Regions from separate parts of the Homo sapiens genome. Here region 1 is linked to region 2. The links come from fine-mapping of genetic effects on gene expression. A gene starts in region 2. The other region holds a variant in brackets. All regions are shown on one strand. Distances are from middle to middle.

Evidence for each region. PIP is the estimated chance that this variant, and not a neighbour inherited with it, causes the effect.
Region 1: its variant is fine-mapped to the expression of GYS1 in whole blood (INTERVAL, PIP above 0.99). The same link has a PIP of 0.9 or more in blood mononuclear cells.

What each region holds. Positions count from the first base shown.
Region 1 is chr19:48,965,831-48,971,104 of GRCh38, reverse strand. FTL (ferritin light chain) reads right to left here. Exons shown (of 4, transcript NM_000146.4): 2 at 5,189-5,274; 3 at 4,699-4,824; 4 at 4,226-4,522. The coding sequence ends at 4,370. GYS1 (glycogen synthase 1) reads left to right here. Exons shown (of 16, transcript NM_002103.5): 13 at 82-177; 14 at 396-559; 15 at 1,250-1,330; 16 at 1,494-2,975. The coding sequence ends at 1,817. Among named protein-coding and RNA genes, the nearest start is that of FTL, 3.2 kb to the right of the region's middle. RefSeq lists a cis regulatory region at 1-277 and enhancers at 254-781, 2,547-2,776. The variant A/G (reference allele first, on the strand shown) is at 3,032.
Region 2 is chr19:48,990,761-48,996,086 of GRCh38, reverse strand. GYS1 (glycogen synthase 1) reads left to right here and starts at 2,778. Exons shown (of 16, transcript NM_002103.5): 1 at 2,778-3,092; 2 at 4,604-4,785. The coding sequence starts at 2,975. RUVBL2 (RuvB like AAA ATPase 2) reads right to left here and starts at 2,200. Exons shown (of 15, transcript NM_006666.3): 1 at 2,164-2,200. The coding sequence starts at 2,175. RefSeq lists enhancers at 2,302-2,391, 3,082-3,221 and a silencer at 2,512-2,871.

The sequences.
Region 1 (5,274 bases), 25 kb after region 2:
GGCGGTGTTGAGGCGTCTATTGCGATTAAGACGGTAGGCGATGAGGGAAGCTAAGTGGGTCTCTCTCCTGCCTTCCCGCAGCTGAGTGCACGGTTATGGGAATCCCCAGTATCTCCACCAATCTCTCCGGCTTCGGCTGCTTCATGGAGGAACACATCGCAGACCCCTCAGCTTACGGTCAGCGCCCAGGCCCCTGAGGATTCTGGAAGGGGGCTTGAGAACAGTGACTCCTGGATCCTGGGAAGGAGGAGCTTGCACCCTTGGAGACCAGGGGCACCAGGAAATGGGGGGGCTCTCGGGCCGCTGGGAGAGGAGGGGTCCTGGTGCCACAGAGTCCTGGAGACCATGAAGATCTCCCCAGGATGTTTTCTGAACCTGGGTCCTGGCCTCCACAGGTATCTACATTCTTGACCGGCGGTTCCGCAGCCTGGATGATTCCTGCTCGCAGCTCACCTCCTTCCTCTACAGTTTCTGTCAGCAGAGCCGGCGGCAGCGTATCATCCAGCGGAACCGCACGGAGCGCCTCTCCGACCTTCTGGACTGGAAATACCTAGGCCGGGTAGGACCCCCACTTTCCTATCCTCTCCTGGCAAATCAGCAGCTCCTGGCTAGGGGTCTTTGGTGCAGGGTGCAGGGTCTCATCCTACTTGTAACAGTTGCTGTCCCTTTAAGCAATGAACCAGGCCGATCGCGATGGTGGCTCATGGTTGTAATCCCAGCACTTTGGGAGGCCTAACAGGAAGGATCGCATGAGCTCAGGAGTTAAGAGACCAGCCTGGGCAACATTTTATTTTTACTAAAAATAAAAAAAAATCAGCCGAGCGTGATGGTGCGTGCCTGTAGTCCCAGCTACTGGGGAGGCTGAGGTGGTAGGGTCGCTTGAGCCCCGGAGGTTGAGGCTGCAGTGAGCCTTGTTCAAACCCACTGCACTCCATCCTAGAGTAACAGAACAAGACCGTGTTTAAAAAGAAAAAAAGAACATTGGTCAGGCGTTCTCATTTGCATAAGGGTGTGGCCAAAGAGGAGACTCACTTGAGAATTCGGCCCCTGTTTGAGGGGTATGGCTCAGAAACTGTCCATTCACAGGTCTGCTTATCTACATAAGGGGTGGAGTCAGATAGATGGATTATTTGTATGGGGTGCAGCAGTGTGCTCATCTGCATAAAGGGTGTGGCCAAGACCCCCATCATCTGCCTGGGGGTGGGGCCTGGCTCTCACATCCTCTGCCCCCTCTCCTCCTTTCCCCTAGTACTATATGTCTGCGCGCCACATGGCGCTGTCCAAGGCCTTTCCAGAGCACTTCACCTACGAGCCCAACGAGGCGGATGCGGTGAGTGGACCCTGGATTTCTGCTTAGCCAGGAGCTAAAGGGCTGGGCTTCGGTGGGGTGGGGGTCCCTCCTGGAGTGGGAAGGCCTAGAGGTGGCTGGATGCCTGGGTGGGACTGTGAGGTCCTCAGCTCACCCTGGTTTGCACCCACATCGCCGTATGCAGGCCCAGGGGTACCGCTACCCACGGCCAGCCTCGGTGCCACCGTCGCCCTCGCTGTCACGACACTCCAGCCCGCACCAGAGTGAGGACGAGGAGGATCCCCGGAACGGGCCGCTGGAGGAAGACGGCGAGCGCTACGATGAGGACGAGGAGGCCGCCAAGGACCGGCGCAACATCCGTGCACCAGAGTGGCCGCGCCGAGCGTCCTGCACCTCCTCCACCAGCGGCAGCAAGCGCAACTCTGTGGACACGGCCACCTCCAGCTCACTCAGCACCCCGAGCGAGCCCCTCAGCCCCACCAGCTCCCTGGGCGAGGAGCGTAACTAAGTCCGCCCCACCACACTCCCCGCCTGTCCTGCCTCTCTGCTCCAGAGAGAGGATGCAGAGGGGTGCTGCTCCTAAACCCCCGCTCCAGATCTGCACTGGGTGTGGCCCCGCAGTGCCCCCACCCAGTCCGCCAAACACTCCACCCCCTCCAGCTCCAGTTTCCAAGTTCCTGCACTCCAGAATCCACAAAGCCGTGCCTTTCTCTGGCTCCAGAATATGCATAATCAGCGCCCTGGAGTCCCCTGGGCCTGGACCGCTTCCCAGAGGCCAGGAATCTGCCATTACTCTGCGGTGGTGCCAGAGGTTTTAGGAAACCTGGCATGGTGCTTTCAGGTCTGGGGCTTTTAGAGCCCCCCGTGTGGCTTACAAATTCTACAGCATACAGAGCAGGCCACGCTCAGGCCCGGCATGCGGGCCACCAAGTTCTGGAAACCACGTGGTGTCCCTGCGAATGGGGCGATCAAGTCCAGAGCCGGGGCACTTTCAGAGTTTGAAGGTAACTGAGAGCAGATGGTCCTCCATTTCAACTCCAGAAGTGGGGCTCTGGGAGGGATGTTCTAGCCCTCCCTGGCATGTCAGAGCCAGGCTCTGCCTGGAGGATCCCTCCATCCGGCTCCTGTCATCCCCTACACTTTGGCCAAGCAAGAGGTGGTAGAACCACTTGGCTGCTCATTCCTTCTGGAGGACACACAGTCTCAGTCCAGATGCCTTCCTGTCTTTCTGGCCCTTTCTGGACCAGATCCTACTCTTCCTTTCTAAATCTGAGATCTCCCTCCAGGGAATCCGCCTGCAGAGGACAGAGCTGGCTGTCTTCCCCCACCCCTAACCTGGCTTATTCCCAACTGCTCTGCCCACTGTGAAACCACTAGGTTCTAGGTCCTGGCTTCTAGATCTGGAACCTTACCACGTTACTGCATACTGATCCCTTTCCCATGATCCAGAACTGAGGTCACTGGGTTCTAGAACCCCCACATTTACCTCGAGGCTCTTCCATCCCCAAACTGTGCCCTGCCTTCAGCTTTGGTGAAAGGGAGGGCCCCTCATGTGTGCTGTGCTGTGTCTGCACCGCTTGGTTTGCAGTTGAGAGGGGAGGGCAGGAGGGGTGTGATTGGAGTGTGTCCGGAGATGAGATGAAAAAAATACATCTATATTTAAGAATCCCAGGTGTGGTCAGACATGACACTTGGTGGGCCTGGCTGTGACGTCCCCCCAGT[A/G]CCACCCCTTCCCTGGTCTGAGCTCATCCTCTTATTCTAGAGAGACTTGGGGGGTCTCCCTATGTTGCTTAGGCTGGTCTCAACCTCCTGGGCTCAAGTGATCGTCCTGCCTTGGCCTCCCAAAGTGCTGGGATTACAGGCTTGAACCACCCTGCCCCAGACCCAGGGGAAGGAGAAGGGGAAGAGTCAGAGCTGACACAGCAGTTTTGCAGCTTGGACACAGCAAGTGCTTTTTAAGGCCTGTTTTAAGCTTCTTCAGTTCCCATTTGGAGAATCCGGCCCAAGGTTTCACATCCCATTTCTGTGATGAACCCTAAACCCCTTGTCCAGCATTGCTTGGGCATCACGTGTTCCTGGCTGCTCAGCTCCACTGGCCAGTTCCTCTCAGTGTGCGCCTCACATTGGGATCACTCAAGCTCGGGCCATAATCTCTTAAACTCTGGAGCAAAGACCTCAGTGAGCCCCCCGGTTGCCATGCAAGTTGCATAGCAATAGCGTCAATGTGCCCATATAAAGGGCCTAATAATTCCAACTGCCTCCCAGAATTGAGGCTTTTTTCTTTTTTGAGACAGAGTCTTACTCTGTTGCCCAAGCTGGAGCACAGTGGCGCCATCTCAGCTCACCGCAACTTCCGTGAGGCAGACATGTTTTTTGTTTGAGATGGGAGTTCCACTCTTTTTGCCCAGGCTGGAGTGCAATGACGCCATCTCAGCTCACTGCAACCTCCGCCTCCCAGATTCAAGCGATTCTCCTACCTCAACCTCCTGACTAGCTGGGATTACAGGTATGAGCCACCACACCCAGCTAATTTTGTATTTTAGTAGAGACGGGGTTTCTTCATGTTGGTCAGGCTGGTCTCGAACTCCTGACATCAGGTGAGCGACCCACCTGGCCCCATAATCACTCGTTAAATAGGGCTGTTTCTGGCTGAGACCTAACATCTGTTTCTAGATACCAACCTAGGTCTTAATTCAACTCCCTGGAGTCTATCTCTACCATCTGGGAGGGACAGTTAACAGCCAGGCAAGCAGAGAACCCTCAGGTTCAACACTACCCAGATAGCCTCTTGTCTTAGGACAGTTAAGAAAATGGGAGATGGGGCCAACTCCTCTTTCACTGGCATCCCAACCCAGCCAGAAGCTTTATGAGAACAGATCCCACCTCATCTTCCACACCACACACAAAACCACCAGCTGCATCAAAAAGCTTTATTTCCATTTGGTCCAAGGCTTGTTAGGATAGTTAAGAAAGCTGCCTATTGGCTGGAGGGAGAGGCTTAGGCAGAAGCCCTATTACTTTGCAAGGGGCCCTTCAGAAGTCGCTGGGCTCAGAAGGCTCTTAGTCGTGCTTGAGAGTGAGCCTTTCGAAGAGATACTCGCCCAGCCCAGCCTCCGGGCCACCCAGCCTGTGGAGGTTGGTCAGGTGGTCACCCATCTTCTTGATAAGCTTCACTTCCTCATCTAGGAAGTGAGTCTCCAGGAAGTCACAGAGCTGAGAGAGAAGAGGGAGAAATTAGAAACCCAATCCCTGGAAAAGAGGGGGAGAGAGCAGCCAGTTGCAGATTAAAATGTGACAGGTGTGAAATGAGGCTCTGAAGGAAATTTGCCCAAAGGGAGCAGAGGCTTGAGGGGTATGGTTGGGTAGCCATGGATGCAGCGGGTACGTACATGGGGGTCCGTGCGGGCAGAACCCAGGGCATGAAGATCCAAAAGGGCCTGGTTCAGCTTTTTCTCCAGGGCCATGGCAGCTTTCATGGCGTCTGGGGTTTTACCCCACTCATCTTCAGCTGGCTTCTATATAGAAGGGAGAAATGGCTCAGAATACACACACTCGGCACATAGAACTAAACCTACATTTCCCAAGAGTCGTTGGGGGTCAGAGGCCCAGGCCACAAAGACATGTGACAGCTTGTATTTATCACTCTCCGCACCCTGTCCTAGCTCTTACAGCTATACGTCCCTAAGACCACGCAGCGGTGTGGACTGCCGCGTGTTGTGGGCACTGCACGAGGTGCGCCTCTATTTCCAGCGGTTAAGAGGGCTCACAAGACCGAACTCAATCTCCCAGAAGCCCACGCGACACCTACGCCCTCAAATCAAGGCTCCTCGCGCGCACGGCCTGCTGGGAGATGTAGTCCATTACCCACACACTAGTTACCTTGATGTCCTGGAAGAGAGCGCGGCCGCCACGCTGGTTTTGCATCTTCAGGAGACGCTCGTAGCCCTCGCGCTTCTCCTCGGCCA
Region 2 (5,326 bases):
AATCCTCCCACCTTAGTCTCCCAAGTAGTTGGGACTACAGGTGTGTCCCACCACACTTGGCTAATTTTCTTCTCTTTTCTTTTCTTTTTTTTTTTTTTTTGAGACACAGCCTTACTCTGTCACCCAGGCTGGAGTGCAGTGGCGCGATCTCGGCTCACTGCAACCTTCGCCTCCCGGGTTCAAGCAATTCTCCTGCCTCAGCCTCCAGAGTAGTTGGGACTACAGGCATGTGCCACCACGCCCGGCTAATTTTTTTTGTATTTTTAATAAAGACGGGGTTTCACCATATTAGCCAGGCTGCTCTCAAACTCCTGACCTCATGACCTGCCCGCCTCGACCCCCCAAAGTGCTGGGATTACAGGTGTGAGCCACCGCACCCGGCCTAATTTTCTTATTTTTTTGTAGAGACAGGGTTTCGCTATGTTGCCAGGGCTAGTCTTAAATTCCTGGGCTCAAGCAATCCTTCTACCTCGGACTCCCAAAGTGTGGGATTACAGGCGTGAGCCACTGTGCCCAGCCCACAGGTCTTTCTTCTCTTCTTCCCCTAGAGAGGACATGCAGTTATCCAGCCCAGAGGAAGCCTCCTCCCTCTGGAGCCAATCGTTTAGACTTTCTGGCCATCAATGGTCACAAGCTTTCCCTGTCACTGTGTGAACCTTCCCACCTACCGTCTCCTATAGGAAGCTGGAACCCAGGAGCATAGAACATTACCCCCAGACTACAAGCAGAAGACTAGGCATCCCCACCCCACAAAAAAGACATGAATCCAGGAATCCCAAATGTAGCTCTCTCAACATAAACAGGCCCCTTACCAAGGACTGTCTCCTATAAAGACTTTCTCTTTCATCATAAGTCTCTCCAAAACCTTGCTGCCCGCTGTTCCCATGAAAACCAAGGTCATTTCAAAACTCAGCACACACCGTCCCCTCATACTTCCAATACTTTCTCCACGGTAGTTCTGGTCATAGCCTTCCTCTTCTACTTCCCTATCCACCTCCTCCTCCTCCTTGCCCTGGTGACAGCAACAGACTCAAATCTCATCCCCAGCTACCAACAACTTTCTCCCCCTCCCTTCCTCCATCTTGACTGGGCTCATCATGGAAATTGAGGCACCTGTAAGCCCAGCCCAGTCCCTAAGTTCAGGTCACATTACCTTTTTTTTTTTGGAGACAGAGTCTCGCTTTGTCGCCCAGGCTGGAATGCAGTGGCGCGATCTTGGCTCACTGCAACTTCTGCCTCCCAGGTTCAAGCGATTCTCCTGCCTCAGCCTTCTGAGTAGCTGGGATTACAGGCCTGCACCACCACACCTGGCTAATTTTTGTATTTTTAATAGAGACGGGGTTTCGCAATGTTGGCCACGAACTCCTGACCTGAAGTGATCCGCCCGCCTCGGCCTCCCAAAGTGCTGGGATTACAGGCATGAGCCACCACGCCAGGCCAAAATCGCTTCTTTATTCAGGTAATTGAGCAGGTGCCAGGCCAAGTTTCCTGGCCTCTCCTTCATTCACATGTATTCATTCATTCAAATATTCAAGTGATAATTTATTGAGCATTTACACTGAGACGTAGCCCGTGTGAAATACTGGAAATATGAAAATGGCCAAAACGGTAGCATGACAAGATCCCGATTTCTGGGTCCCTAATCCTTCAGTCCTCTCCACTAAGACTCTCTTGTTCCTCGACAATTTCTTCCCACTAAAGGCTCACTAGGCGCCCTCGCGCTCTCAGACACACTGAACAGGTACCTGCCTGTGCTTCCAGCTTGGAACTCAAGTGCCATTGGCACCACTAACAATCCAAGGCTCCCAAATGGCTCGAAGCGCAAGGTCCTACAACCCTCCTCATCACACACTGGCGCCAAGGACTGCGGAACCGGCCGTTGCGCCAAGATGATTTTGAAAGTTGGAGTTCCTATAGCATGATGGGGCCAGACCCGAGATTCTGGGATCCCAGCCCCCTCCCCGCCTCAGATCCAGAAGTCCAGCCCCCATGTCCCCTTCTCCCCCAGATCTGGGTGGCCGAGCTTCCTCCTCTTTCAGACCCAGGAGTCTGAACCCCCAGATCCCCCCTCCCTCAGACCCAGGAGTCAGGGCCTCCAGCATCCTCCTCTCTCAAACTCGAGACTGCTAGCTCGCTCCTCACCCTCCATGCACCCACACTTACAACGGTTGCCATGATGCTCACCAACTGCCAGAGTCCTAGCGGAAACGGAAACGCGCGAGGAGCGAGATGTTCTGGCTCCTCTAGGCTAGCTGGTTCTTCAAAGATCTCGATGGTTCCTCATAAATATGTAAATATTGTGGGGGCGTGGCGGGACTTTATGCCCCGCCCTCCCACCGAGGCTGCGCTGGAAGACGGGCGTCCGGAACTCCTGGGTCCATTCCCAATGTCTCCTGGCTCCTCCTCCTTTTGCTCAGCCCCACCACCGCCCCGCTCAGGCCGATTGCAAAATTCTTAGCTGTTCTTTGAGTAACCACACGTCCTCCACGCTCCTTTCCTCTTTATCCCACCCTCCTCCTCCTCCCCACTTTGAGGCCTCCAGCTCCAGATTGACAGAGCTGAAGGCCACTCGTTTCCGTAAAGCGCAGCGGCAAGCTCCGCCCCCTGGAGGTCTCACGGCCGAGGCGGGGCCGGGACACAGCGACTCCAACCCGTTCCACCAATGAGGACACGCGGAAATCCCCGCCCCCGGGCGTGGGCCAATGGCGCTGGCTGGGGGGGGCGGCCACCGCCTCCTGGCGGCTGCGAGGTTTCACTGCAGGGGCGCCAGTGGGCTCAGTGACGCTGCGGCCTCCTTCTGCCTAGGTCCCAACGCTTCGGGGCAGGGGTGCGGTCTTGCAATAGGAAGCCGAGCGTCTTGCAAGCTTCCCGTCGGGCACCAGCTACTCGGCCCCGCACCCTACCTGGTGCATTCCCTAGACACCTCCGGGGTCCCTACCTGGAGATCCCCGGAGCCCCCCTTCCTGCGCCAGCCATGCCTTTAAACCGCACTTTGTCCATGTCCTCACTGCCAGGACTGGAGGACTGGGAGGATGAATTCGACCTGGAGAACGCAGTGCTCTTCGAAGTGGCCTGGGAGGTGGCTAACAAGGGTGAGCACGCCAGGCGTCGGGGCCCTTGACGAGAAGGACAGTAGTGGATGGGGGCCCGGAACTCTGAGTTGTAGGAGGACGGGGCTACTAGGGGAACCCTTGTGACCTGGGCAAGGAGGCTGTGTCCTTGAGGAGGGGCTGGGAAGCCGGAGGTGGGTGGGAGAGGGATGGTTCGTTTGACTTAAGATGAAAGGAGGCTGGAAGCCCGGGTTCTGGGTCCTAGGGAAGAGGGCGCTAAAATGAGACTCCTAGGTCCTGGAGGCAGGCTTCCGAGAGACTAGATACCTGGGTCCTGAACAGGGAAGGGGATGGGGGGATGGGATTTCTGCGTGCAAACCTGGGAAGCTGCCGGGGTTTCAGACCTATGACCCTAACAGCATGGTCTAGGGGATAAAACTCCAGATTTGAGAGAGAGCTGACTGGGAGATAGGAGGCCTGAGCGGCGGTGGGAGGACCTGAGGATCTGGCTGCTTAAGAATAAAGATGGGACGGGCTGGAGACTGTAATGAATGCCTGGGCTTTGAAGGAGCTGAGGGCCTGAGCTATTAGTTCCTAGGAGTAGAGGAGCCCATGGCCTGGGACACATGCGTACTGGAATAGGGGAAGGCTGGGAAGTCCTAAGTTAGTCAGAGGCTGGGCCCTAGGATGGGAGGGGCTAGGAGCCTGCATTTCTGTGTCTTGGGCTTCAGAAAGCTGAGGTTCTGGCCTTGGAGAAGGCTGGGGCTGAAATCCCCAGGAACAAGCCAATCTCACACCTCAAAGAGCAGGGTCTGGGGGGTTGCTTTGCTGGGTCTTGGAGGAGAAAGGGACTGTGTCTCCCAGGAGGAGAGGGGGCCCGTGAACACCCAGCCGGGTATCGCCAGGGCCTGGGCTCCAGGATGGGAGGAGGCTGGGGGCTGGGGCTCCTGGGTCTGGGATAGGGTCATGGGAGAGGCAGAGCCCTGCATGCTGGTGTCCCTAGTCAGGGAGAGGAAATTGGGAGGCAGGTCAGCAAGGTCCCTGGGGGCAGGGAATGACCATGCAGGCTTCTCTTGGGCAATGGTGAGAAGCTGGATTGGCCATGAGGGGGTCTCCCTCACTGGGTTTTGGAGCCTGGCTGCGATTTAAACCCAGCTCCTGTGAGCTGGGAACTCGGGAACCTGAGTCCGGGTAGTCAGTCCTCAGCTCTGCCATCCTTAGAGCCCCAGTGCCTAATTCCTTCAGACCAAGGGGTCCCGGCACCCAGCCCCTTCTCTCTCAGACCCAGAAGTCTAGCCTGAGCCCCCTCCTCCTTCAGGGTCCTGACCCCAGCCCCCTTCTCCCTTAGACCCAGGAGGACTGCCCTCCAGCCCTCGTGTTCCCCTCATCCAAGCTTCCAACCCCTACTCCAAACTATGGGCTCCCAGTCCCCTCTTCCCCCTGAGCTAGAGGTCTGGGGCCTGAGTGCCCCCTACATCCCCGGCCCACCCCACCCCAGGCCCCAGAACTATGGACCTCGGCCGGGGCCTGCCCTCACACGCTTGGGCCCACAGTGGGTGGCATCTACACGGTGCTGCAGACGAAGGCGAAGGTGACAGGGGACGAATGGGGCGACAACTACTTCCTGGTGGGGCCGTACACGGAGCAGGGCGTGAGGACCCAGGTGGAACTGCTGGAGGCCCCCACCCCGGCCCTGAAGAGGACACTGGATTCCATGAACAGCAAGGGCTGCAAGGTGGGACGTGGCCCAGCCCAGGGCAGAAGCGGGTGGACAGCCTGCCATCGGGGTGGGAGCCACAGACGGAGAGGGTGCAGGGTGGACAGCCCCAGCCAGAGAGCGAGGCAGGCTTGGACACAGGAAGGAGGCGTGATAGGACACCCAGACAGATGCAGGGCCTGGAAGTGGGTGGGTGGATCCCAGACATGGGCGAATGGACAGACAGATGGCAAGTATGAGACAGACTGAGACGGAGATCCAAGAGGCCAAGGTCCTCAGACCCAGAGAGAAAGAGAGCAAGATCGAAAGACAGCCTGGTCAACATGGCGAAACCCCGTCTCTACCAAAAATACAAAAATTAGCTGGGTGTGGTGGCGGGTGCCTGTAATCCCAGCTACTCGGGAGGCTGAGGCAGGAGAATCGCTTGAACCCGGGAGGCGGAGGTTGCAGTGAGCTGCGATTGGGCCACTGCACTCCAGCCTGGGCGACGGAGCGAGACTCTGTCTCAGAAAAGAATGCCAGCCAGCCAGGCAGAGCTGGGGAGAAGTGGGCCTGAGGT